Linked DNA regions of Homo sapiens. The protein of the gene in region 4 interacts with the protein of the main gene of each other region in a biochemical or structural test. Each region holds a gene or a part of one and is shown on either strand. Other genes may lie near its edges. The genes, in order: MARK3, ROR1, MARK2 and ARHGEF2.

What was found.
Region 1: of the proteins of ARHGEF2 (region 4) and MARK3, one has a biochemical effect on the other in vitro, tested with the Homo sapiens proteins (one study listed by BioGRID).
Region 2: the proteins of ARHGEF2 (region 4) and ROR1 form a complex in vitro, tested with the Homo sapiens proteins (one study listed by BioGRID).
Region 3: the proteins of ARHGEF2 (region 4) and MARK2 form a complex in vitro, tested with the Homo sapiens proteins (one study listed by BioGRID).

What each region holds. Positions count from the first base shown.
Region 1 is NC_000014.9:103,500,395-103,504,350, forward strand, and holds the end of MARK3 (MAP/microtubule affinity-regulating kinase 3), read left to right. Parts: intron 1-2,487; coding exon 2,488-2,833; 3' UTR 2,834-3,437; downstream 3,438-3,956. UniProt on the Homo sapiens protein: Serine/threonine-protein kinase. Involved in the specific phosphorylation of microtubule-associated proteins for MAP2 and MAP4. Phosphorylates the microtubule-associated protein MAPT/TAU. Phosphorylates CDC25C on 'Ser-216'.
Region 2 is NC_000001.11:63,769,463-63,777,040, reverse strand, and holds the start of ROR1 (inactive tyrosine-protein kinase transmembrane receptor ROR1 isoform 1 precursor), read right to left. Parts: upstream 3,025-7,578; 5' UTR 2,624-3,024; coding exon 2,533-2,623; intron 1-2,532. UniProt on the Homo sapiens protein: Has very low kinase activity in vitro and is unlikely to function as a tyrosine kinase in vivo. Receptor for ligand WNT5A which activate downstream NFkB signaling pathway and may result in the inhibition of WNT3A-mediated signaling.
Region 3 is NC_000011.10:63,842,078-63,849,116, reverse strand, and holds part of MARK2 (serine/threonine-protein kinase MARK2), read right to left. Parts: intron 1-7,039. UniProt on the Homo sapiens protein: Serine/threonine-protein kinase. Involved in cell polarity and microtubule dynamics regulation. Phosphorylates CRTC2/TORC2, DCX, HDAC7, KIF13B, MAP2, MAP4 and RAB11FIP2. Phosphorylates the microtubule-associated protein MAPT/TAU.
Region 4 is NC_000001.11:155,975,548-155,983,258, reverse strand, and holds the start of ARHGEF2 (rho guanine nucleotide exchange factor 2), read left to right. Parts: upstream 1-4,711; 5' UTR 4,712-4,831; coding exon 4,832-4,894; intron 4,895-5,083; exon of another isoform or gene 5,084-5,192; intron 5,193-7,711. UniProt on the Homo sapiens protein: Activates Rho-GTPases by promoting the exchange of GDP for GTP.

The DNA.
Region 1 (3,956 bases), on a different chromosome or scaffold from region 4:
TGTGTTTGTGTTCAAAGCACGGCGAGGCCTTCAGCCTTCCTGCCTGGGCGTTAACAGCCTTTGGAGGTCTGGGTTGGGTAGCAGTGCTCAGAGAAATAAGCCCTCAGTTCATCACTGACCCCTCACATGGTTCTCTTCACAAGGAATAAAAGCAAAGTACTTAATAGAATGTCCATATTTCAAACTAGATATGTTTTCTTCTAAGAATGGTGATTATATAGTTGAGTGTTTTGCTTTTCTTTTTTTTTTTTCTGAGACACGGTGTCGCTCTGTCACCCAGTCTGGAGTGTAGTGGCGTGATCAGGGCTTACTCGAGTTCCCAGGCTTATGCGATCCTCCCACCTCAGCCTCCTGAGTATCTGGAACCACAGGCACTGCCACCATGCTGGCTAATTTTTGTATTTTCTGTAGAGATGGGGGTCTCGCCATGTTGGCCGGGCTGGTCTCAAACTCCTAGGCTCAAGTGAACCTCCCACCTCAACCTCCCAAAGTGCTGGGATGACAGACATGAGCCCCCGCACCCAGCCTTGCTTTTCCATTTTGTATAGTTATCATTGCATGGATTTGAGGGGAGGCAATCACCAGGTAGCCTTAGGACTCTATGTCCCTTGTTCTAGGTCTCTTCCACTTGTGCCCTTTTTTTATGCCAGTCACCAGCAGGCTATTTCAGGTCCTCATTCACCGTTTGTCCTTTTGGTCTTTCTAAAAGCCCGCTTCTGGTCATATGACCTTTCTGAATTAAAACCTTCAGTGACCTCCACTATTTCACCTGGCCACGTCCCTGCGAGGCCCTGAGTGGCGTGGTCCAGGCTGCCCCAGCAGCCCCAGCTCTGCTGCCCCATCAAGGCAGAGCACTAGGGTGAGTGCCAGGCAGCATTCCCTCTCCAGGCCTACCCATCCCAGCCAGGAGCAGGCTCTAGATCCTGGTTTGTTTCCCCACCCATAATAGGAAGGTGACATAATAGGACCTACGTGGGCATCAAGTAAGTTGGGGCCTGACCACCACAAGTGCTCATTAAGTGCCACCAGCTGTTGTGGGGGTGATGACACTGTGCCTCCAGTTCCACTCAGTCTGTGTACTTTATTATGCCACAGACACATCCTGTACTTTCCTACCTCCCCTTTGGCTGTGATCCCCTCTACTCAAAACAAACACTCTTCCCTATCTTCATTGCATTTTGTTGAAATCCCATGGCTCTTCATAGCTCTCCTCAGATGCAGGCCCACCCCCACCCGTGCTGTTTCCTCCTTGTCTCATCCTGCCTGTCACGTTCTCCTGCTCGGCGGGCTCCACCTCTTCTGCTGCCCTCTAGGAGATGGCCAGCCTTTCCTGTGCTGCCACTGTTGTCTCACCTTACAGTCTTCCTGGCTCCAGATGAGTTTGAGAGCTTTTGCTTATCTTTGTAACCCATTTAGTATCTAACGTGGCATTTTATACATAGGAAGCTTCTCTCATCAGTATTGGTGGATGTGAACCAAATTGAATACTGGCAGGTTGGTGACACGGAGAGCTATGTGCATATGCAAAAGCTGTAGCCCCTCACCTCTGGTTAGTTGGCCATAGGATGGAGTGTACTTAAGGTACATAGACTATTTTACTCCCAAGAATGCTAGGCACTCACTGTCTTAATTGAGGCCACCAGATACACACATGAGAATATAAATAACGGCTTGTGGCAATAATGACTAAATGCCAAGGAGTGGCTGGTAAACCGCGGTGTTCCCTAGAGACCCCGGCCTGGGCTCTACTTAGGCTGCCTCTTGGACATCAGACCAAGGCTTACATTCTGAATCCACAGGGCATCCACATGGGTGGTGTCAGTCCCCCACAGACAGAGAAGTGTCCCGTTGCATTTTTCCATCTATTCCAGTAGTAAGATTGTGTCATTTGAGATTTTCTTTAACTGTATAATTGGACGTTTAATTAACAAACCAGAGAGGAGGAAAAACAATGAGGTGGGTAGAGCATCATGTTCAGCCTCAGGGCTGTACAGCAAAGCAATTTTAGACTGCGGATGTTGAGTCTCCAGTTACCCTGAGTGCCAGTTACAGTGATTCACATCTGAAAGAACAGTACTGCAGGAGAGGGACAGCCCAGGGTGGATGGGTGGGGTGGGCAGGAGCTGGCTGGCAACTCCTTCCCTGAGCTGGGCCTGCAGAGCCCTGAGGAGTGGGGCATGCTGTCCTTTTTGCCTGATTTCCAAGGATTCTGCTTAACGAATTACTTCGTTCATTTTAGTAAGCACAGGTGGCTGGTGAAGATTTTCCAGCTAGGTAGATCTTTTTGTGTGTGGCTTATGACTTTTAGGGGGTGAGGGAAGAAAATAGACGAAAATAGACTTAGTTACAAATGTGAGTCTGTGCAGGAAAATGTGGAGGTCAGTCGTTAGTTGTGTTGTATCAAAGACGTGAATGAGGAACTAGCTGAAGTGTAAGAGGTTGATTTTCCTGTACGATTAAAAATAAACCTGCCTCTATGCATTTCAGTCGCAATGTATCTGCTGAGCAAAAAGATGAAAACAAAGAAGCAAAGCCTCGATCCCTACGCTTCACCTGGAGCATGAAAACCACTAGTTCAATGGATCCCGGGGACATGATGCGGGAAATCCGCAAAGTGTTGGACGCCAATAACTGCGACTATGAGCAGAGGGAGCGCTTCTTGCTCTTCTGCGTCCACGGAGATGGGCACGCGGAGAACCTCGTGCAGTGGGAAATGGAAGTGTGCAAGCTGCCAAGACTGTCTCTGAACGGGGTCCGGTTTAAGCGGATATCGGGGACATCCATAGCCTTCAAAAATATTGCTTCCAAAATTGCCAATGAGCTAAAGCTGTAACCCAGTGATTATGATGTAAATTAAGTAGCAATTAAAGTGTTTTCCTGAACACTGATGGAAATGTATAGAATAATATTTAGGCAATAACGTCTGCATCTTCTAAATCATGAAATTAAAGTCTGAGGACGAGAGCACGCCTGGGAGCGAAAGCTGGCCTTTTTTCTACGAATGCACTACATTAAAGATGTGCAACCTATGCGCCCCCTGCCCTACTTCCGTTACCCTGAGAGTCGGTGTGTGGCCCCATCTCCATGTGCCTCCCGTCTGGGTGGGTGTGAGAGTGGACGGTATGTGTGTGAAGTGGTGTATATGGAAGCATCTCCCTACACTGGCAGCCAGTCATTACTAGTACCTCTGCGGGAGATCATCCGGTGCTAAAACATTACAGTTGCCAAGGAGGAAAATACTGAATGACTGCTAAGAATTAACCTTAAGACCAGTTCATAGTTAATACAGGTTTACAGTTCATGCCTGTGGTTTTGTGTTTGTTGTTTTGTGTTTTTTTAGTGCAAAAGGTTTAAATTTATAGTTGTGAACATTGCTTGTGTGTGTTTTTCTAAGTAGATTCACAAGATAATTAAAAATTCACTTTTTCTCAGTAAAATCTTGCATTGTCTCCTAATGCTGTATTTAACACATCCTCAAGTTGAGCAGAAGTAATGTGTATGAAGGCTTGGGGCCACGTGGACCTTCGCAGGGGTCCCAGCATTTTGTGATTACCAGCATATTTTTTCTCCCAAGGCAATAAAGAGAGAAGATGGCCCTCATGGTGACCCAAGAAGGAAGGGAATCCAGAGCAGCTGCAGCTTAACCCTGGGAGTTGTGGCACAGCCCTATGGAGAAACACCAGGTCTTGACAGTTCTGGGTTGGTTCTCTGTGAAGTATGTAAATTTCCTTTCTCCTTTCTTGTGATTCAGTACATGAATCAGACCTGCAGCTTTTGTCCAACACCTACATGGTTGTGTAGGGGTAATGAGCTCATAACTCATTGTGTTGCTTTATTCTCACAGGGAAGTTGTCACACTGATTGGTGTGCTATTCTGGGTTCTGGGTTTGTTGTTGGTCAGAGTATGAAAGTCTGGAGGCCGGACACAGTGGCTCACACCTGTGAACCCAGCACTT
Region 2 (7,578 bases), about 92 Mb from region 4:
AACAAAATAGAAAAATGATGGGAGAAATGTTTTGTATCTTTTTAAATAAATACATGAAACATATCTCCGCTTAAGCTGATTTCCTGAGCCACTGGCTGGGCTACCTTAGGAATCTTGAGTCCAAGAGGAGAAAGTAAACGTGAGTTCTACCAGAAGTCTTGACCCCAGAGAAAAGATCAAACATTCACAAAATGGAAAGGGATTTATAAAACAACAAATAAGACAATAATAACAGATTTGAGCTCATTACTAAAGAGTATGGTGAGAGAAGAGAGACAGACCCTCTCATATTGTTTTATATTGTTTTATACTCAGAAAAGGAAAGAGAAGCGAAATTAAAGGCAGGTAGCCCGGCACCTAGGAACCAGACCTGAAACCAAGGAACCAGACCCGAAACCAGGCCTGGGCCTGCCTGACCTAAGCCTGGTACTTAAAGATCGACCCCTGACATAACTGGTTATGTTATCTATAGATTCCAGACATTGTATGGAAAGACAGTGTAAAAATCCCTATCCTGTTCTGTTTCGTTCTGATTACCAGTGCATGCAGCCCCCAGTCATGTACCCATCATGACCCTCTCACGTGGACCCCCTTAGAGTTGTGAGCCCTTAAAAGGGACAGGAATTGCTCACTGGGTGTCTGAGGAGTTTTGTCTGTGGCTCCTCCTGCTACAATGGAATAGGCAATACCTTTTTTAAACAACTCTAAAAGGCTGTAAACAGTTAAAGGAGACAGAATTGGGGTGGCTGCTGATAAGAAGGGTGTTTACAGTGAGCAAAATCAATGCAGGGACATGTATTTAAAGGTAAGTGACCCCCACCCCCACAAGGGGCTATGATCTAAAAGCAACTATTGTTGAAAGGTGAAGTACAAAGTAAAGGAGTCCACAGGGGAAATAACTGAATTAACCAAAGCCCCAAGCCAGGAGTCCCACCTTAGTTAAAATCACCCTGCTTATCTCCACCTCAATTTGCTGGGCAACCCAACTTGAGAAGGATGTTTACATTACTTAGGCAGCATGGCCCATTTTTACTTTTCACCCAGGTGTTGTGGCGCAAGGCCAGATGTTTGGCATCACCAAGCAAAACATCTATGTGACCAAGCTGTTTACATTTCATTAGGATTTTTCATCAGGAAGGTGCACTCCCTGCTGATGCACATCTTAATTACAATTAGGAGCTCTATTTACCCCCAGGAGCTTTCAGATTAGCACGACCACATTATAGGATCCGTTTCAGAAATCATCCTCAGAAAATGCTACTCTAGCTTCCAAAAACCATCTCTAAGAAATCAAAATTTCACACAACTTCCTTCCAGAGTGTGTTTTCTACCAAGAAAGTCAGCTAACTTTTAGTAAAAACTAATTCTGCATTCGTAGTCTATGTAGTGAATACATCTTTTTCCTCTCAACTGCTAAGTAGCGCAGAACTTTTTCTTTTCCTAAACACAGTGCTAACTTAAAAATGAAAGATGCATGATAAAAGAGCAGAGATCTATTTATCCGCTCAGGTTTAGGGCTGGGAGTGGGGGAGGGCAGAATCCAAAGGCTCCTCACCCCCTCAAGGGATGCATGTTAAAAGTGAGGCCCGAGACCCCGGAGACTTTAATCAACTTTCCCCCTCCAACCTCCAAAGAATGAATCGGTTGTCTCCACAGGCTCAGCCGGGCTCTTCCCTCTCATTGTGTACCGGCTCAGACGCAGCAAGGACCCCAGCTTCCCGCAGCGAACTAAGACGCTCCGGCTTGCGGTGAAGTCTTTCTCTAACTGTTGCGATTGTCTTTAGAGATTACCAAAATCAAATATGCATTAGATGGCTTTTCCCCCTCTTGTTTGTAACACGCACACACACACGCGCGCGCGCGCGCGTGCACACCCAAAGCACTTTGGAGCCGCAGGCCGCCTCTGACAGCACATTTTGCACAAAGTGGCAGCGGCTGCAGCGGCGCACAAGTTTTGGCCTCTATGATGACTCTCGGGAGGGCCGGAGGGCCGGGGGCGGTGGCGATGCGAGGCCGCCGGAGCCCCAGGAGGACAGGGCTTTTGTTTGCGTCGATCCGCGAGCCGCCTGGGCTCTGGCGAGCACCACTGAAAATCCAAACTCCCTCCTGGACCGCGCCTTCCGGGCCGGCTCGCAACTTGGGGGCAGGATAGACTTGCCTGAACACCGGCTGGGGCGCGCTAGAGGTCCAGGGAGACAAGGGGGGACGCCCTGCACAGAAGTGCCCCGATCACCCCCAGGACCCTCAAACCCCTCCACGCTTCCTGTCAGCGCTGACAATCGCTGCTGCGCACCGAGGAACGAGTCCCTGGGCGCGCCCCGGCCCGCCGCGGGGCTCCGGGGCAAACCCTGGCCTGGCGGGGCTCCGGGGCAAACCCTGGCCTGGCGGCGCCGGCGAGCCCCGTGGCGGGTGGCCGGACGCGCCCCGGAGCCAGCGCGGCGCTTCCTGCGTGTCCCGCGCCCGGCTGGACGGCGGAAGGGTGGCCACGGGTCAGGGGGTCTGGGCGGGCGGGGGCCGGCGGGCGCCTCTTACCTTGGGCAGCAGCCCCGCGTGCGGCCAGCAGCAGCGCGGCCAGCAGCGCCAGGAGCGGCGGGCGCGTCCCGCGGCGGCGCGGCCGGTGCATTCCTCCTCTCGCTGAGGCGGCGGCGGCGGCGGCTCCCAGGCCGCGCGCAGAACATCCACGGGCTCTTCCCGGGCTCCCGGCCGCCTCGTCCCGGCCGCTGGCGCTCGCAGGACGCCGGGGACGTCTGCAAAGCTCTTTGTCCCTCTAACCTGCTCCCTCGCCTCCGCCTGGCCGCCTCTGGATGCCGCGAGCGCGATCCCTTCCCAGCCCTCTGGCTGCAGCCTCGCCTGGGCCGGCGGGTCAGTCCCAGGCTGTCCGGGTCGCACCAGTGGGCGTGAGTCGCCCTGGGTCGGACTCCGAGAACAGCGCACCCTGCGCCCAGGGGCTGCCGTCCCGGGGCTCCCTCGGCGGCGGCGGTGGCGGCTGCTCCAGCTCTCCACGCTCCCTCTCTCGCTCAACTTGTCACTTTCCACCAACTCTCCAGCCCAGCGCCCCAGCCCCGACCAATGGGAGACGCGGCCCAGGCTGGCGACCCAGCGCCCTCTGCTGCAGCCTCTCAACGCCCGCACCCTCCCCGACTTCGCAGAAAGCGGTCGCGGCTCCCGCGTCTCGGGCACGCTCCCTCCCCTCCCCTCCCCCACACTCCTCAAACTCGCCACCGAACCGAGCGCCGGGGACCTTCGAGGCTACTTGACAGAAGGGGAAACCGAGGCTCAGAGAGACTTATCCGGGATCTCAAGCCAGTTCGTGGCTGGACGACAGTAGACCCAGGTTCTAGCAGCCTCAGCTGTGTCACTGTTAGCTGTGTGACTCTGGGTAATGGCACATTTATTGCTATCATACAATTTCCCTTTTGCTTTCTTCTTGGACCCAAGAGTTGAGAGAGTTCTTACACAAGTAATTTATACTTCGCCTTTTTGTCTTTAATTTGTAGTCTCACTGAATTCAATGTCATCTGTACTGCCTCCTGGCAAGATTTATTGAGGATTATCTGTGGTTATTTTTGCCAATGTCCCATGGTTTTTTGAAAGGTGTTTTTGTCTTCCGAATGTGAAGATAGAATACTGTATCGATTTATCTTCTTTGTATTCATTATTTTTTCAGGCCTTCTGAATCTTTGCATGTTTGTTTGTTTGTTTGTTTTTTGTCTAGCTGCTCTGCCATGAGCCAAGGGATCATTAAAGACCTCTACAATGAGTGTGTTTTTGTCCATTTCTCCTGGTTTAACTTTATGGATTTTGTAATTCATAAATACCCATAATGATTTGACTTTCCCTGTAGAGACTGCCTTTGATCATAAAAAGTGGTGAGCGCCTGCTGTTTTCAGGGCTGTGCTCTAGGCTCTGAAGATGCAAGGGTAATAGGACACCTGTCAGTCTTGCTCTGGAGGAACAGGAAGAAGCCCATAGTCTCTCAATAATCACGTGGCCACTTACTAAATACCTCCTGTTTGCCTTGTGTTTTATATGCATTTGCTCACAAATCCTCCATTGACACTAAAAAGAGTCATTAAAAGTATATACTTCTTAGCTGTTTTACATATATTATCCCCATATTACAGTTTTAGAAATTGAAACTCAAAGGGAAAGTAAATGACTTGCCCACAGTCTCACAGACATGGGGTAGCCAAGCCAGCACTCAGGCTGTTTCCACTGAGAGAGTTAAAGCCTGTAACCAGAGCCTGGCACATGATAAGCACTCACTCGGGAGTTGTTGCTGTTGCAGTAGCCTCTAAGAACCCAGCTTTAGGGTTTTAAAATGAACAGTCACTTCATGGAGGGCGAGGACTCTGTCTCAATCATCTAGGTATCTTGCTGGCCTCTAACAGTACCTGGAATGCAATAGGAGCTCAATTAATGAACAAAGGTTAGGTCACCATTTGGAAAATATTAATTTCTCATCATATTTGTTTTATAGGGGTGCATGGAGGAGGGACAAAATTTCATCCATACTCCTTGGCACCAGGAAAAGCAGATCCCTGAGAGCTGAGACATTAGAAGGGGGAAAAAATGCAGCCCAAAGTATGTCCCAGCAGGTCATGGACTCCAGACTCCCAGCCCTTTGCCTTCAGGCAGGTGAATGACTAACCCATGCGGGACAAACAGTCACTTATTCTTCTCCAGGACTTCATGGCAGGAGCTGTGTCGGTAGTTTTCCCCCTTTCTATCGCTCTGACCTGAGGTCAAAAAATGATAGACAGAGAGGCCTTGGGTCAACCAGTTCATTACCTACATTGATCTGTCCCCCAAGTTTCTCTGCCTGAGATCTATTCAATCCTGTCCCAATTATCTCGCTTCTTGCCTGAGGAACTTACTGCACAAGGTTCTCTTGTTGGGAAACAGTCTTTGATGGTCAGTCTTAGTATATCACAGCCCAGAAATCAGAGGATACTCAGTTACACTGCACAGTGCTGGGCAGTCCTCTGTTGTCTACAGTCAATACACACAGTTGTCAGACAAGGAGCCTTTCTCATCCACCCACCCTGCCCCCAGCCCCCACCCTATAACTCCTAGGCCCAGGTATCTTAGGTAACAGACAGCTGCTAGTGCTGAGTATACAGAACTTAATGGCACTTTTATCAGTACTTAAACTTCCAGGAACTTAATCACAGAATCATAGACATAAGGAATGTGAGACCTGGAAAGGGCTTTGGAAATTAACTAGTACACCCCCCTCAACATTTTATACAGGAGACATGTGGGACTTAGGAGAGTGAAACCGCCTTGCCCAAAGCTGGCCAGAGCCAAAACTAGGACCTAGACCTACCAGTCCAGACCTGGGTAAGGACCATCATCAAATCATCCCAGATTCCTTCAGTTTAGCTATAGCACACAAGTTTCCAAAGAAAAGGTTAGCAATGGCCTGGCACGGTTGCTCATGCCTGTAATCCCAACACTTTGGGAGGCCAAGGTGGGTGAATTGCTTGAGATCAGGAGTTCGAGACCGTCCTGGCCAACATGGTGAAACTCCATCTCTACAAAAAAATACAAAATATTAGCCAGACGTGGTGACACACCTGTAATCCCTGCTACTCGGGAGGCTGAGGCATGAGAATTACTTGAGCCTGAGAGGCAGAGGTTGCAGTGAGTGGATATAGCGTCACTGCACTCTAGCCTGGGCAACAGAGCAAGACTCCATCTCAAAAAAAAAAAAAAAATGCTGGGGTGGGGGGGTGTTAGAAAAGGCTTTTCCTGTTTAAAAAAGTAAAAGAGGTAAAATATATATAATATGCAAAATATATATATGTGTATATGTATATTTATTTATTTATGCAAGTTCAGTAAATGCCAATGTTTAAGAGCACAGGCTGGGGAGCTGGGCTGCTTGGTCTCAAGCTTCAGCTTCTCTGGTTTCTGCTGAGTGACTATGGACAAATATCTTAGTTGCCTGTACTTTTGTTTCTCACCTGTAAAATGATGATGATAATAATAGCACCTATTTCATGCTGTGGTTAGTGTTAATTGAGTTAACTCTTAGAAAGTGCTTTTATGAGTATCTGGCACAGAGAGACACCTAATAAATGGCAGATATTATCGTTATTATTATTTACTGCATGAACCTACTTATATCATCAAAATAAGGTTGGTCTTAGCCCATTTTTAACAAATGGGCTAAGTGAAGTGAGTTTTTAAAACTTGCCCAGAGTCAAAAAATTAAAGCAAAAAGGCAGGACTCCATCCCAAGTCAAATATCTCTCTACACTATACACCACTGTCTCAAACCCCTGGTGGGCTATGATAAAAGCTCCAAGCAATCTAAATGTTCCTCTCACAAGCCTCTTTTGGCCATGCCCTCTCTTTTAGGAAGCCAGAAGTTGACACAAATGGATAAGAGAACCCAGGTGAAGCTACTCACTTCCCAGGGGCCTGGCACAACCTGAGGTACTGGCTGAGGCTCCTGCTACTTACAGAGGCACTCATCTCCCCTGGCCTCTTGCACTGGCACACACGGTTCTGTTTATTATCACTGTAAGGCATAGTGGGAAAATGGAACAAGAGCAGGGCAATAGTAAATCATTGGGGTCAGGTGCCAAGGGGAGCATTAAATAGAAAACTATCTTTCATTTCAAAAACTTGCTGGTGGGAGAGACTCATTTGGGCCATCCGCTTGATTTACCCAACAAATACAACCATTAATTATTCTTGGAGAAACGGTGTAGTGTGATGCTTACCAGGAAGAGTTCAGGAGCCAGACTGCATGGATTCAAATCCTGCTCTGCTCTTAATAGTTGTGAGTACTGGGTCCCTGTATTTTAGTTTCTTCATCTGTAAAGAGGCATAATAATAATACCTACCTGTAGCTTTGTTCTGAAGATTAAATTAGTTAATACCTGTAAAGAATTTAACATAGTACCAGTTACACAGTAAGCAGCCAATATTTATTAGCTACTATTGTTAGTGATTAAGAGAATGGACTCGGGCTGGGCGTAGTGGCTCACGCCTGTAATCCCAGCACTTTGGGAGGCCGAAGCAGGCGGATCACGAGGTCAGGAGTTCGAGACCTGCCTGACCAACATAGTGAAACCCCATCTCTACTAAAAACAAAAAAATAGAAAAATTAGCCAGGCATGGTGGTGTGTGCCTGTAATCCCAGCTACTTAGGAGGCTGAGGCAGGAGAATGGTGTAAACCCAGGAGGAAGAGCTTGCAGTAGGCCGAGATTGCACCACTGCACTCCAGCCTGGGCGACAGAGCGAGACTCCATCTCAAAAAAAAAAAGAGAGAGAGAATGGACTCTAACATCAAACGGAGCTGGCTAGATGACCTGAACAAGTTGTTTAATTTCTTTATGATACAACATTCTCACCTGCTAAAAGGAGAGAGAGACAGATAATAGAACCAATCATATAAAGTCATTTTTAGTATAAAATAATGTACTTTATACTTTGAATACAAAAGTCACAAAACAGTGTTTGGGGAGCTGGGCATGGTGACTTGTGCCTATAATCCCAGCTACTAGGGAGACTAAGGTGAGAGGATCTCTTGAGCCTAGGAGTTTGAGACCAGCCTGGGCAAT
Region 3 (7,039 bases), on a different chromosome or scaffold from region 4:
AGAATCACTTGAGCCTAGGAGCTATTTGAGGCCGCAGTGGGCTATGATCACACCACTGCATACTAGCCTGGGTGACAGGGTGAGACCCTGTCTCTTAAAAACACCAACAAGGTCAGGCGCGGTGGCTCACGCCTGCAATCTCAGCACTTTGGGAAGCCGAGGCGGGCGGATCACGAGGTCAGGAGATCGAGACCATCCTGGCCAACATGGTGAAATCCCATCTCTACTAAAAATACAAAAATTAGCCAGGTGTTACAGCCGGGCACGGTGGCTCACGCCTGTAATCCCAGCACTTTGGGAGGCCGAGGTGGGTGGATCATGAGGTCAGGAGATTGAGACCATCCTGGCTAACATGGTGAAACCTCATCTCTACTTTAAAAAAAAAAAAAGTACAAAAAATTAGCTGGGCATGGTGGTGGGCGCCTGAAGTCCCAGCTACTCGGGAGGCTGAGGCAGGAGAATGGTGTGAACCCGGGAGGCAGAGCTTGCAGTGAGCTGAGATCGCGCCACTGCACTCCAGCCTGGGCGACAGAGCGAGACCCTGTCTCAAAAAAAAAAAAAAAAAAATTAGCCGGGTGTGCTGGCACATGCCTGTAGTACCAGCTACTTGGGAGGCTAAGGCAGAATTGCTTGAACCTGGGAAGCGGAGGTTGCAGTGAGCTGAGATTGTGCCACTGTACTCCAGCCTGGGCAACAGAGCAAGACTCCGTCTCAAAAAAACAAAAAGACACAACAAAAAGAAGGTGGAGAAAAAAGGCAGCCGCACATGGGATATCAGAAACCAAAGCAAAACTCATACTGAAATGGTAATCAGAAGCAATGAGTAGCTCACTGTAGTATCAACAGGGGCAACCAGCCCCCAAGGACAAGGTCTAGGCTGGAGCTCTGTCAGCAGGTAGTTACACTCACTAATTACTAAACGTTCATATTTTGGCATTTCCTGCTTAGCTGGGAGACTGGGAAATAATCCTACCTGGCTGGCCTTGCTCCCTGAGAAAGACTTCCTAGTGCTATTGCAGGAAGTGTCAGCACACATGGTGACCGGAAGCTCCCACCTTTCCTACAGGTTGTTTCCTATGGCTGAAGTCCCTGTAAGCTGCCAAAGAGCAAAAACTATTTTTTCTCTCTTTTCTTTCCCAGCAGGCCTGGACAGACAGTCCCATTGCGTGGACGAAAAAAGGCCTGGGATGTCACTGAATTTAGCAGCCAGATCATAGCAGTAAGGAGTCCTGATCCCCTCCCAGACCCATAAATGAGGAGCCAAAGGCAGACCCAGTCCCTTCCTCCTGGCTAGGCTGAGGGTCTTTCACCAAGTTGTGAATTGGGAAGGGAGTCCAAAAAAGGAGTTAATGTCTTAGAGCTTTCAGTGAAAGGTGTATAAAGCAAAGCTGCCTTCAGGTTCAGCATAGGGTGGAGAGAAAGCCTCCTCCCTGGAGTGAAGGACCAGCTCAGAGACCCATTCAGTGTTTGGGGAGAAGGGGGTTGTTGACAGATAGTTGTCTTCCAAACTTTCGCCTCAACGAACACAGCCCCAAAGGAGGCAGACCTTTGTATTGCCAACTTCCCAAAGAGCACACAAGAAAATAGGCCAAGGCTGCCCAAAACCAGCTTGACTGGTTCTACAGAGAAGCCCCTGGTCTGCTCCGCCTTCCTCATGTTAAAAAGAAAAAGGCCAAAAAGGTGGCTGGGAGCCAGTCACTGAACACAGCCCTCCTCTCTTTCTGCCAGGCACCAGTTGTCCCTCAGGATCACCTAGCCACCAGTATCAGTGTCCATCTCCCCTCCTCTCCTACCAAATCTTCTGTTCATTTAGTTTTATAAGCCTAAAATTAATGATTTGGTGTAAAAAGGAAATGAATTTACTTTTGCCCTTTTTGCCATTTTCTAATGAGAAATGTAAGGAATAACTGCAAGTAGGGGGAAATAAGTGCCAACCCAAAGACAGACATCTGCGGAAAGAACCACCACAGGGACTGACAAACCTTATTTATCTTGAGATGGGGTCTCACTCTGTTGCCCAGGCTGGAATGCAGTGGCATGATCACAGCTCACTGCAGCCTCAACTTCCCAGGCTCAAGTGATCCTCACATCTCAGCCTTCTGAGTAGGTGGGATACACGCATGTGCTACCACACCCAGGTAACTTTTTAAAAATTTTTTTGGGCTGGGCGCGGTGGCTCCCGCCTGTAATCCCAGCACTTTGGGAGGCCGAGGTGGGTGGATCACGAGGTCAGAAGATCGAGACCATCCTGGCTAACAAGGTGAAACCCCGTCTCTACTGAAAATACAAAAAAATTAGCCGGGTGTGGTGGCGGGCACCTGTAGTCCCAGCTACTCGGGAGGCTGAGGCAGGAGAATGGCGTGAATCCGGGAGGCGGACCTTGCAGTGAGCCGAGATCGTGCCACTGCACTCCAGCCTGGGCGACAGGGCAAGACAACGTCTCAAAAAAAAAAAAAAAATTTTTTTTGGCCAGGCGGGGTGACTCATGCCTATAATCCTAGCACTTTGGGAGGCTGAGGCAGATCACGAGGTCATGAGTTCAAGGCCAGCCTGACCAACATGGTGAAACCCCATCTCTACTAAAAATACAAAAATTAGCGGGGTACAGTGGCGTACACCTGTAATCTCAGCTATTCAAGAGGCTGAGACAGGAGAATCACTTGAATCCGGGAGGCGGAGGTTGCAGTGAGCTGAGATCGCACCACTGCACTCCAGCCTGGGCAACAGAGCAAGACTCCGTCTCAAAAAAAAAATTTTTTTTTTGTAGAAATGAGGTCTCACTATGTTGCTCAGGCTGGTCTTGAACTCCTGGGCTCAAGTGATCCTCCTGCCGTGGCCTCCCGAAGTGCTGGGATTACAGATATGAGCCACCACACCTAGCTTGAGAAACTTGAAACATTCCAGACAAAAACAGATATGAAGATAAAGGGATCTAGCCTATTTATACTTATCAGAGGAGGAGATGTCTAGAGGGCAAGAGGAGGAACTGGGATGCCTCCTCCTCTGAGACACAACTGGAAATCAAGAGGCCAGATTCTCTCTGGGTGCTGTTTAGAATCAGCTGTACTATCTCAGTCTAAAAGATAAGCAATGATGCCGGGCGCGGTGGCTCACTCCTGTAATCCCAGTACTTTGAGAGGCCACGGCAGGCGGATCACTTGAGTCCAGGAGTTCAAGACCAGCCTGGCCAACATGGTGAAACCCTATCTCTACTAAAAATACAAAAAGTGGCCAGGCATGGAGGTGCGCACCTGTAATCCTGGTTATTTGGAAGACTGAGGCATGAGAATCGCTTGAACCCAGTAGGTGGAGGTTGCAGTGAGCTGAGATCCTGCCACTGCACTCCAGCCTGGGTGACCAGAGCAAGACTGTCTCAAAAAAAAAGACGAGCAATGACCTTCAATGGCCTATAACAAAAAGGAAGGGGGCGGGTGGCAGTAACATTCTGCTCAGGAGTTAGCACTTTCAGGGTTAACCTGGGGATAGCCTGGCTCTCCAGCAGTGGGAAGAGGGTGACTTCCTCCCCCACAGGTTTGTAAAGGCTTACTCTTCCCTTTGCAGAGACAGAAGGGAGAAAATGCATAGACAACACTTCAGTGACTCACTCATGTTTGATGAAAGCTGGGAGGAGGCCTGGAGAATCCAAGCTACAAGCACAAAACGTACAAATACTGGAATCTCCCATCAAGAGAAGGAAATTTAGCCACCTATCTGGTTTGTCATTTTGCTGAACTTCCACTGAAGGAGGAAGGGCCAGCTTTAAACTCCACCCACCCTTTCCACATCCTTCTCAATTTTTGCTTTGATGGGAAAGTGGGGAAACTGGCGGCCCCACCATGGCTAAAAGAGAATCAAATCCTTTCTATACTTCCTCTCAAAGCAGAGGCCTAGTAGCTCCAGTCCACAGCTTAACCAAGCAGAGGGAATAGGGGCTTGTCCTGGTTACTGTAGGAAAGCCTCATCAGGCAGTCTCAGGGAAGGAAGATGACCACCCTCCTCACCCTTTCCATCTGCTGAGGTTACTTCATTCCAATCCATTAATGGGCTTCAAAGTGCTGCTGGGGGGAGTCCATTTAGCAGAGAAGCTATCACGGGGCCAAAGGTGGCGCCCACCCCCTACCCCATTTGTCGATAATGGGCCACAAAGTCTGAGGCTTGGCTGCACTCTAGACATAAAATATTCATTCAAGTCGACATAATACATAAGTAGGAACCTCATGGAAGCTCCTGGGAGAAGAGAAATGCCAGCCAGGTGGCTAAGTGCTCAATGGGAAAGAGTTCATGAAGGCCTGGGTTAGTCCTGATCAAATGCCCACTGAGAATTGGGTTGTTCTGTCCAAAGGGGAAACAATCTAGTCTGAGAAGTTCTGACTCCCAAAAGCTCGAACCCTGCAAACCTCTTAGGCAAGCAAAGTCTCAATCTTTTCCTACCTCATAGGCACCAACTCTGCTTAGGACATTTATGCTGAGAAAAATCTCCAGCCCAAACTTTGGTTGGTCTGAAAGATTAAGTTATCCTTGTGCAAACTTTATTTTAATCTGCAGCAGGCCGAGTTTCAACAACTGTCTTATATCCATCTGTTTAGCTACTTTCCGAAGTCCATAAATTGGAGAAAAGTAATTTTTTTTTTCTGAGATAGTGTCTTGCTCTGTCACCCAGGCTGAAGTGCAGTGGCACAAACACAGCTCAATGCAGTCTCGACCTCCCCAGCTCAAGCCATCCTCCTGCCTCAGCCTTCTGTGTAGCTGCAACCACAGGCATGTGCCACCATGCCCAGCTAAATTTAAAAAAATTTTTTTGTAGAGATGGAGTCTCACTTTATTGATCAGGCTGGTCTTGAACTCCTGGCCTCAAGCAATCCTCCTGCCTTGGCTTCCCAAAGTGCTAGGACTACAGGCATGAGCCATGGTGCCTGACCAGAGAGAAATTATTCTAATTTACTAGGTACAGTTACTTTTCAGATTCAAAGGTTACGAACTCCAAGGACTCCCAAAGCCCTTGCTCTAACAACACTTCCTTCCTGATCTCTAGGGCCAAGCCGAAAGTGACACTATTTGGTCTGACATTCACCCACATTCCTGACCAGAAGGCAGCACCACCAAGGACCCCCTGGCCAGAATCAAAGGACAGAGTGAGAATTAGCACCAGGGCACACTGCTGCACAGCTCAGAGTGTGGACTGAGATGCTAGCTAGCCGATCCAATCTACCTAAGTTACACCAAAAGCAAAAAAAAAATATTTATCCAGCAGATCACCTGAGGTCAGGAGATCGAGACCAGCTTGGCCAATATGGCAAAACCCCGTCTCTACTAAAAATACAAAAATTAGCCAGCATGGTGGTGGGCGCCTGTAGTCCCAGCTACTCCCAGGAGGCTGAGGCAGGAGAATCGCTTGACCCGGGAGGCGGAGGTTGCAGTGAGCCGAGATCGCATCGCTACACTCCAGCCTGGGCGACAGAGCAAGACTCTGTGTCAAAAAAAAAAAGAGTTTTATATATATATATATTTTTATCCAGAATCAACAATGGGGGTCCAGTGAGAGTGTTTGGAGTAGTTCAGCTGTTCCTTATAGGATCTTGTAACTTTGTTTTCTTCACCAGTACTTCTAAACTCCCCTTCCTAGAACTGAGAGAATAAACAATGCCGCTCACTGCCTAGAAGCCTGACAGCAGCCCCCTCCCTTCCCACTGCAGCAGAAGTGGGGCAAGTTTTCTCTCAATCCCTCTCTCATAGTTTCTGAGGCCCAGAGGTGGGGCAGGTCCCAGATGGAGTAGCCTCTCCCCCAGGTGTTATGGAAAACTCTAGCAGGTGAACTCTGGAAGCTGGACCTTTCTCCAGGCTTGCCTGTGACTGCTGCTGCTGGCTGGAAGACAAACAGTCATCTTGCTGATTGCTTTCACAACTGCCAAGCTTCAGGCCAGCAGAGTCATTTGGAAAAGAAGTGAACAAAAAGCTCAGCTCACAAACTAAGAATCCCCCAAGCTACGAGCCCCAGATTAGAACCCTCCTTCTGCAAAAGCAGGAAGTCTATGGCTGTGAAAAAGCACATCTGGAATCAGGTGTCACAAAAACCATCTTAAAGACAGGGCTTAACTTTTTTTTTTTTTTAATCTCCTACTTTCACTGTTATAAGCGAAGTGGACAGCACACAGGCAATCTCCCTGTAACGCAAGGTTTATTTTTATGCTTCAACATTTTCAGTGTCTGTGTGTTTCAGAGTGATTAAAGGGCTCCTGGAAACAGGTTCTCATCAGCCACATTTTTAAAGAAGAGGGAGAGGAAGAGCAAGAAAAGAGACTGGAGACAACCAGTGGTGTTTGTTTACCTATTTTCTGGTAAAACCAGTTTTAAATTTAAATAAGGTGACAGAGGACCTTTAGGGGAGGAAATCAGCCCAACTAAATCCCCTTTTTAAAAAAAATAACATTAAGACTATAGTAATGACCAAGCTTCCATGACTACTTTATCTAAAATCACAACAGGACCAAGAAGAGGTTTCTTTCACTTGGTGGCATGATCTATTCTCGGAGGCCAGTGTTTGATATACCTGGCCTTGTGACCTGAGGAGCTGCTGCTTGTCTTTTTTCCCGTTTTAAAGAATACAGGAATCAGGCCCGGCGCAGTGGCTCACACCTGTAATCCCAGCACTTTGGGAGGCCGGATCACGAGGACAGGAGACTGAGACCATCCTGGACAACATGGTGAAACGCTGTCTCTACTAAAATCCAAAAAATTAGCCGGGCGTGGCGGTGTGTGCCTGTAGTCCCAGCTACTCAGGAGGCTGAGGCAGGGGAATCGCTTGAACCCAGGAGGCGGAGATTGCAGTGAGCCAAGATTGTGCCACTGCACTCCAGCCTGGCGACAGAACGAGACTCTATCTCAAAAAAAAAAAAAAAAAAGAATACAGGAATCTGTCTGGAATAGGTGCATCCAAGGTTTTCCAAAGTCCCTGCTTTTACTGGAATGAGACTTAATATTAAATCGATACAGTGACTGGCTACCCTGAGAACAACAGTAGAAGGTATGAAGGGGCTAAGGA
Region 4 (7,711 bases):
TTTTTCTTCATTTCCAGCATTACCTCCATCTCCTCATGTCTTCTTTTTCTCTATGCAGCTGCAGCCAGCTGGAAGGACATTCAGGTACCCGGGTAGGCTCCTCCCTGCGACAGACCTTCAGCTTCCTCTCGGGCATGACCGGAAAGGCCAAGGTAGGAGTCAGCTGGGGAAGCAGGAGGCTTGGGACCCACTGCCCTCTCCAGTTCCCTTTCTCCCATCCCACCATCGCCACCTCCCACCACTCCCCCTATTAGAAACTCAGAGCAATGGTTCCATTTTTTATTTTTTTATTTTTTTAAGAGAGGGGGTTTCTGTCTCCCAGGCTGGAGTACAATGGCACAATCATAGCTCACTGCAGCCTCTAACTCTTGGGCCCAGGAAATCCTCTTGCCTTTACCTCCCAAAGTGCAGGGATTACAGGTGTGAGCCACTGTGCCCAGCCAAATGCTTCAAATTTTAAGGAAACACATGCTATCTCTTCCAGCCTGTGTCTCTGTGTCCCAGTAAATCACCTTTTCTCTGCTTTCCCCTACGCATCCAGCTTAGCAGTCAGCTGTGGACAGATGGAAGGGGAAAAGGGCCAGGAACCTCAGAAGCTGAGGAATGGCCTAGCCCTCCCTCTCTTTAGGCCTCACATAGCTGACAGGTGGGCAGCGGAAACCTCAACCATTGGACATAATAATGATAATAATTACAGCACTACTTTTTACTTCTTCATAGAGTATCAGGGTTTGCAAAGTGCTTTTACACTCATAATTTTATGGGTGGGTACAGCAGCTGAAGGAGTTGAAATTAGACCACAGGCAGAGTAGAAGCTGGGAAAGTATATGATTATGGAAGCACATGCATACCCGTACATGTGCGGCCATGTGCTGTTCTGATCCCAGGAAGTGAAGGCACATTGTTCTCATCCTTATTACCAACCGTTGGGCTCTGGTGAAACCGGGAGCTCTGCCTGCTCCTTGAATTTGTTTCCACTTTCTTCATTTACTGTCAGAGTGAGCCGCCCCCCTTTTCCTCCCCTGGCCTCCCCAAGTATGCATGTGCTTTCCAACTCGGGGCGGCTTCTGAGTATTGAAAGAAACCCCAGGGAAATCATCATCATATTCACCTTGAAGAGCCATGAGATTCTCACCAGTAAGGTTGCCTGGGCTCCTCCCAGCCCCACCCGCAGTGCCAGGGTTCTCCCCTCTTCCAGCCTTTTTTTAGCCAAGATTCCCTTTTCTCTGGGTGGGCTGGGAAGGTCAAGATGAAAGCAGGTCATGTTGTTAGCACCTCTCACCACAGGCCATGGGTCGGGAGTTGAGGCTAATGGAGGCATGAGACTGGGTGAGTCTCAGAAGAGGAGCAGCTGGAGAATCTGAAAGCTGATGGGAGGGGAGGGCAGGTGGGACAGAGAGGTTTCTCTCCCATGGGGGAATGGAGATCTCGAAGGAACAAAGCAAAAGCAGAAACCTTGGGGTCTGAGTCTCACCTTCCTACAGGCTGTCTCACTGCAGGGTAGGGGAGTCTGCTAGTGGAATCACTCCCTTTTCTTGCCATGGGAATGGTAGGGGAAGTCAGTACTGCCCAGGGGCCATCCAGATCCCGGTTGGTCTGTTTGTCCACCCTTGACCTAACAGTCTGATGGAGGGTTGAGCAACCTGGTGAAGGGGAATGAGGGCAGAGACTCTGGAGCCCAGATGGGAAAGAGGGAAGCGCCAGAGTGAGTCAGGACATTGCCTCGCTCAGCCTTTCCTCCCCACGTCTGTCATCCTGTCTTCCTCTGTTTCCCTCTCCACCATCTCCTGCTACATCTTCCTTCCACCTTCATGAATGTGTGGGCCTGCTTCACTTAATCTCTTTCTCCATAAGCAGTAAACATCAGGGGGTGGGGCTGGAGAGAAGCTCAGTCAAGCAGTGAGAGAAGGAAGTAGCTTAGTCCCTCCTACTTGAGTAGCATTGCACACTTGATGAAACACTTTCAACTCATTTAATTCTTATAACAATTCTGGCAAAGATAAGTATTTCAATCTCAATTCTACAGACAAATACTTAAAGGTTAGTTACTTTGCCCAAGATCTCACAGCTCATAAGAGGTGGCGCCGTATTAGAAACTCAGGGCTTTGGCTGTGTATTGCCACTGTTTCTCTCAATAGCCGTAACACAACAGTTCATTCCCTCTCATCCTTCCCTTCTTCCAGCTTCTGGCTGGATGGCCACTTAAGGCAATTTGGCCTTAATCACCTCCTCCCAGAATATACAAGGTCCAGACCAATAGAAGAAAGAAGAAAAACAAACCACCTTGGGACAGTGTAGAGCTTGGGCTTGGGTATCCTCGGGAGACCCATCTCTTCTCCAACTGGCCGAGACTTTGGCAACCAGGTTCTTCCCTGGGACCTCCTCCCTACCCCTGAAATGGGAGGGACACATTTCGTCAAGTTAAATGGGCTAAAGAAGGTGATGGCTATTTTTAGATCCTGGTAGAAATGTTTGTTTCTGTGTATCTAAAAAATTATTTCTGAAAATCTGGAAGATATCACTGGATAGGAGTAGAGGGGGCGCTGGAATGAAGAAGGGTCTTGGAAAAGGGGGGCAGGTGACACCAAGGAGAAGGGAAAAGTGTTCATTGTTCAAGAGGATATAGAAAACGGAAACTGAGTCAAGCTGCAGGCCAAGCTCACTAAACACAGGTGTTTTTAAAGGCAGAACACTTTTCTTTTCCCTGTCCCTAGTCCCTTTCCTTGTTATTCATCTCCTAAGGGGAAGAAGAGGGCATAGGGTGAGGGGTAGGGTAACAGCAGGTGGGATGGAAAGTAGACTGAAGGTTGGGGTGGGAGACAGAAAAGAGTTGGAGGGTCGGGTCCTCTTCTTTCATAGAGACCTTCTTAGTTGAGTTGAGGGACCATGAGGTCGCTTGAAAAACCCCAGGGTTCAAATTCTATGTTTCCTGGGTACCCAGGCTGGAGTGTGGCCCTTTAAGATTCTATCCATAGCTTGCAGCACCCTCCTGCCCCAGGCCTGGGAGAGAAGCTGAGGTCCCACCCCAGATCTTGTCTCTGGGCCTCCAGTGGGTGGAACCTTGAGGCCAAGATTCTAGCCTCTGGCTGTCTGTTTTTAAATTTAGTACATTCCTGAGTCTTGGCTGCCCACCTCAGGGGAGGTGAGTCTGGAGTTCTGGGGCCAGGAGCCTCAGGCCTCTTGGTTTGGGGGAGTTCCTACACCCTCCCCGTAGGTATACTTGGCAGGTGCAAGCCAGGAAGAACAAGCTGTGGCCCTGGGGAAGTCCTTCCTGCTTTCTAATGTCCATCCAGCCTGAACTGGGCACGGTTTATTTCCTCTTCCTTTTTCCTGGTCTTTGCTATTTAAGGATTCTAAACAGGGGAATGGGTGAAGAAGGAGGTGAAGGAGTTGCTAGGAAGGAGGGGAAGCCGGAGGGGCAGTGTGGGGGTAGTGCTGGGGGTGAGGAGCCCAACCAGCTCAGCCAGTGGTGAGGTAGTGGAGCCCAAAAATAGTGGCAGAGGCTAAAATTGGCACCTACAAGAGTGCTGAGTTGGGCTTGAAACCTGCAGCCTGGCCCCACTGCTGAGCCAGGGCAGAGAACTGCTGGATCTGGGTTGGGTCTCCCCTCCCTCCCTTCTTCTCCCACGCCCTTTGGGGCCAGAATCAGGCAGGACCCTGCTAACCGAAGGCTCTGTCCCAGGCCTCTCTGTGCTTCTGGTTTCTCCAGAGAAATGGGAGACCCTGAGAGGCAGAAATGAACTTCACTGTAAGTGATCATAGTTAGACTGGAGGAGGAATTTTCCCAATAGCAGGAAACTCACCCAAAGGCTGGCTCAGGCTGGGGAAAAGGGTCCAGAGAGATGAATGCCCCACCTTACCCTGCTTCTTGGGGAGAGGCTGGTTGGGCCCTAACTTTCTTTGACTAGGGCAGGCTGGTTTCTGGTCTTTCAGTTCCGGCTTAACTTGCAACAGAGAGAACTGCAGTTAGACACATGGAAGGCCTTCGGTAAAAGTGGAGAATCCCAACCTAGTCCCCCAAAGTAGCTGGCAGAGGCGGAGCTAGGAGGAGGGCAGAGTGGGGTCAGGAAGGCCCCAGAAGGGTGGGGCATGTGGGAGAATTCTCTCCTCTCTGTTCTTCGACCTCTGGGAGTGAATCCTACCCTTCCCGTGTACTGAAGATCCAGCGTTTAGTTCTCCTTTGATTTCCTCTCCCTCTGGCCACCCCTGCCCCCAATCGTAAAAGGGGTCAGTCTGCTCAGGCCTGCTTTGATGGGACCCCGAAGGCCAGGAAGGAACTGGTCCTGGGTTTTCTAAGAGCTGGGGGCGGATGGAATTCTCCTGCCTGCGGGTCTTTAAAGACTGAGGTAACGCAGTAGGGGAGGGAAAAAGGGAGGGCGAGGGGAGAAGGGAAGAAGGGGAGGGCAGAGGGGAAAGGGCCAACCTGGGTCCGGCGAGGGCTGCGGGGCTGGGTTTTAGGAAAAGAAGAGCTAAGAGGCGGGTCTCTGGGGCTAGAGGGCGCCCCCAGGCGCTGGAGGGGAAATAGGCAGAGGGGCCTCTCAAACCTGTCCTAGGACCCTCGTACCTCTCCGAGCTGCCCCCACACAAACCCTGGCGTCCCGTCCTGCGCGCGGGCACCCCGCCCTCCCTCCGCTCCGCCTACCCCCTTCCTGAGCTTGGGCGGGGGAGGAGACTCGGGTTTGAGGAACTGGTGCTGGGTGCCGGGCGAGGGGAGTCAGACTTCCTGTCCCCGAGACCAACGCGTGCGGGCCGAACCCCTCCCCCCGCCTTCCCCCAACAATACAGGACGCCGGGGTCCGCGCCGCGTCCTCCCTGGTCCCCCCGTCCGATTATGTCTCGGATCGAATCCCTCACGCGGGCGCGGATCGACCGGAGCAGAGAGCTGGCGAGCAAGGTGGGCTCGGAAACCCCTCTCCTTTCGCCGCGGTCCTCGGGTGCTCCCCGAACCCCGGCACCCGCGGTGCATCTCCTGTCTCCCCGCCTGCTTTCTGGGCGCCAAAATCGGGCGGAGCGGTGGATCGGCGAGCGGCGGGACGGGGTGGGTGGGGACTGCGAGCGAGTGGGTAGGGGTGGGGGGAGCGGCAGACGCGACGGTGCTGGGATCCCGGGAGGGAGCGGAGCGGACCTGGGCTTGGTCGCCTCCAAGCCGGCGGGACCGAGTGCTTTAGGCCGCTTGAAAGAAAGTTGCTCCGGTAAGGGACGGAGCGGGAAGAGGGAGGTGTGTGTCTCGCGGGTGGGGGCGGTGGAAGCTCCGGCACCTCCTCTCACCCCGGGCCCCACCGGCTTGGGCTTGGCGTGGCGACCCCCCATCACTCCCCAATCGCTGGCTTGGTCGTTCCCCCTTTGTCCCCGCCATCCGGCGGAGGGGACGGGAGGGGGTGGTTTCCCGGCTTCCTCCCACCACCACCACCACCCCTCCAAGACAAAAGTCAGCTCCTCCTCTCCTCGCAAATGGACTTTCCAGCTGTGATTCAGTTCTCCCCTCTGGGTGGGCGGGTGGCTGGGGTCGGGACGGCCGAGGGACGGCTTACTTCCCCCAAACCATCACCTCTAGGTGAAGGGAGCAGAGGTCTTTGTGTAGCTGGGCTCCTTTCCTCCATCCTGAGCCCTTCTGCCTGGAACATAGGGCCTCCATCCCTATCTGCCCCGCCAGCCTCCTAGCTCTTCCTTCTCCCAACCTGAAACCCTTAGGCTGACACACCTGGCACTATGCATTGTGTTCCCTGCCCTTCCTCCTCCTCCCCCAGCGCTCTCATTCTCTTATCTGCTCGTCTTGGGGTCCCTTCACCTAGCATTTCATGAGTCTGGGTGTATAATTATCCACACGCCTCCCCCATCATGACCTCTTGGCCACTCCTCTCCAAGTACCCTTTATCCCTGCCTTTGTACCCAGCCCCATTCCCAAGTGCCCTGACCTTTCCACACCCAGACCCCAGGAAATGATGAAGCTGACTTGCAGGTGAATAAGTCAGAGCTGAAAGGAAGGTGGTGCCTGCAGACAGCACCTCCCAGCTCCTTTGGGGCCCCCGCACTGTACCCATTATCAGAAAGGACAGGTCCCAGCCCAGAGTTGGTTTAATCTCTGGCTTCTCTCCAACCTGAGTGCCCTACTACCCTGGTGCCAGCCTATGCTGATCACCAACTTCAGCCAAGGGAGCAGTACCCCTTAGGAGTCCTTAAGGGTGATGGAAAGCCCTCCCCTCCACCTCCCTGGTAGTTCCTAGCCAGGCTACCTGTCTTGATGCTAAACTGGGAGAGACAGAGGTTCCATCCTGGGTTGGGGGTGGAGGGCCAGGGAAAGCAGCTTTAAAAGGACTTTCCTTAGGGGGTTGGGATTAGATTTTGCTATCTGGAAAGCAACTGGGGATTCGAGTAGGGCCTAAGACAAACAGAGGGCCGGGGTGAGGTGGCTGAAGTGTGGTGGAACAGTGGGGTGGCAGACAGGCTCTTCACAGCCTGCGCCAGCCCAGGCCCCAGCTCCAAAAGTCTGTTTATTTTTTCAACCGTTTGAGCTGAGACCCTGGAGTAGAGCCAAGGGGGGCGGGGGAGGTTTTTTGAAACCGCAGAAATTTGGTTCCACCCTAAAAAGGAAAGCCATGGGGGAGCTGGTTGGGGGAAGACCTGGCTAGGGGGTATAGAGAGCGGTTCTGTGGGGGCAGGTAGCTACTGGGATCCCTTTTCCATTATTGTGGGGAGCTGGGACGTCAGACATCTGGGTGTTCATGCTCTGTTTTTGTTTTTGTTTTTGGTGGTGGGGGGACTGGCTCTTCTTTCTACTATGGGGGCTGGCTGTGTGGGGCAGGTAATTTGGGAATCTGGCTGGCAGCAGGGAGTCGGGGGCTGAGTGGGTGGATCTGAGAGGGCAAAGAGGCCACCGGAGAAGGGTGGTTGTCAGTTTGGGCCGGTCGGAAGGGGAGGGCCACCTCCGGAAAACTGTGGTTACAGAAGGGGGAGTTGGTTCTTAGCCAACAAACCCTGGATCCCCTCTCCCCCTCCCCCCAGCACACCAGCTGTCTCCTTTCTTTTTATACTGTGGTGGGAAGTAGAGGGGCACCCGCTGGAAAAGACATTATTTGAAGAAGATGGTGTCCCCTGCTACCTCCTTGGGGGGATGGGTCACAGCTAAGCCCTGACACCTCAGCCCCTCCCCATTCCTTGCCTCATTCCCTGGGAGCTCCTCCTAGGAGGAGGAATGTAAGTTTAACCTGCCCCTTTCTCTGTCCCATCCTCACAGGATCTCTCTGTGTAGCCCCCTCCATGCTTCCTTTTTCTTTTCACTCCATTTCTGTTCTCCCAGGCTGTCTTCAGTCCTCCACCTCCTCTGTTCTCTCTGCTCTACTTCCTACCTCCACAAGCCCCAAACCTCACAGGTCCCCTTTCTCTCTTTAGTCCCCTGTTCTTCCCTTTCTCCTTTCCCAAACCCCAACCATCATATCCCTTAGAACAAAGGGTCCTTTTCTGCCAAGCAGGGACCAGAGGTCCAGGGATGGCTGTGGAGGCTGGGGGTCCCCTTGGAATCTCTGTGGTGGGCAGGTGGAGTGGGGAGTGTGCAGAGCGACTATTTCTTTGTTCTGAGGAATGGAGAGGTGGCTGGCTTTGTGTGCAGGACTAGGAGTGCAGTGGAGAGGAGAGCTGGGGGAGCCCAGGAGGGAGCTGAGAGGGCTGACGGTGTTGGAGGAGAGTGGAAGAATGGGGGGTCCTCCTGGTGGCT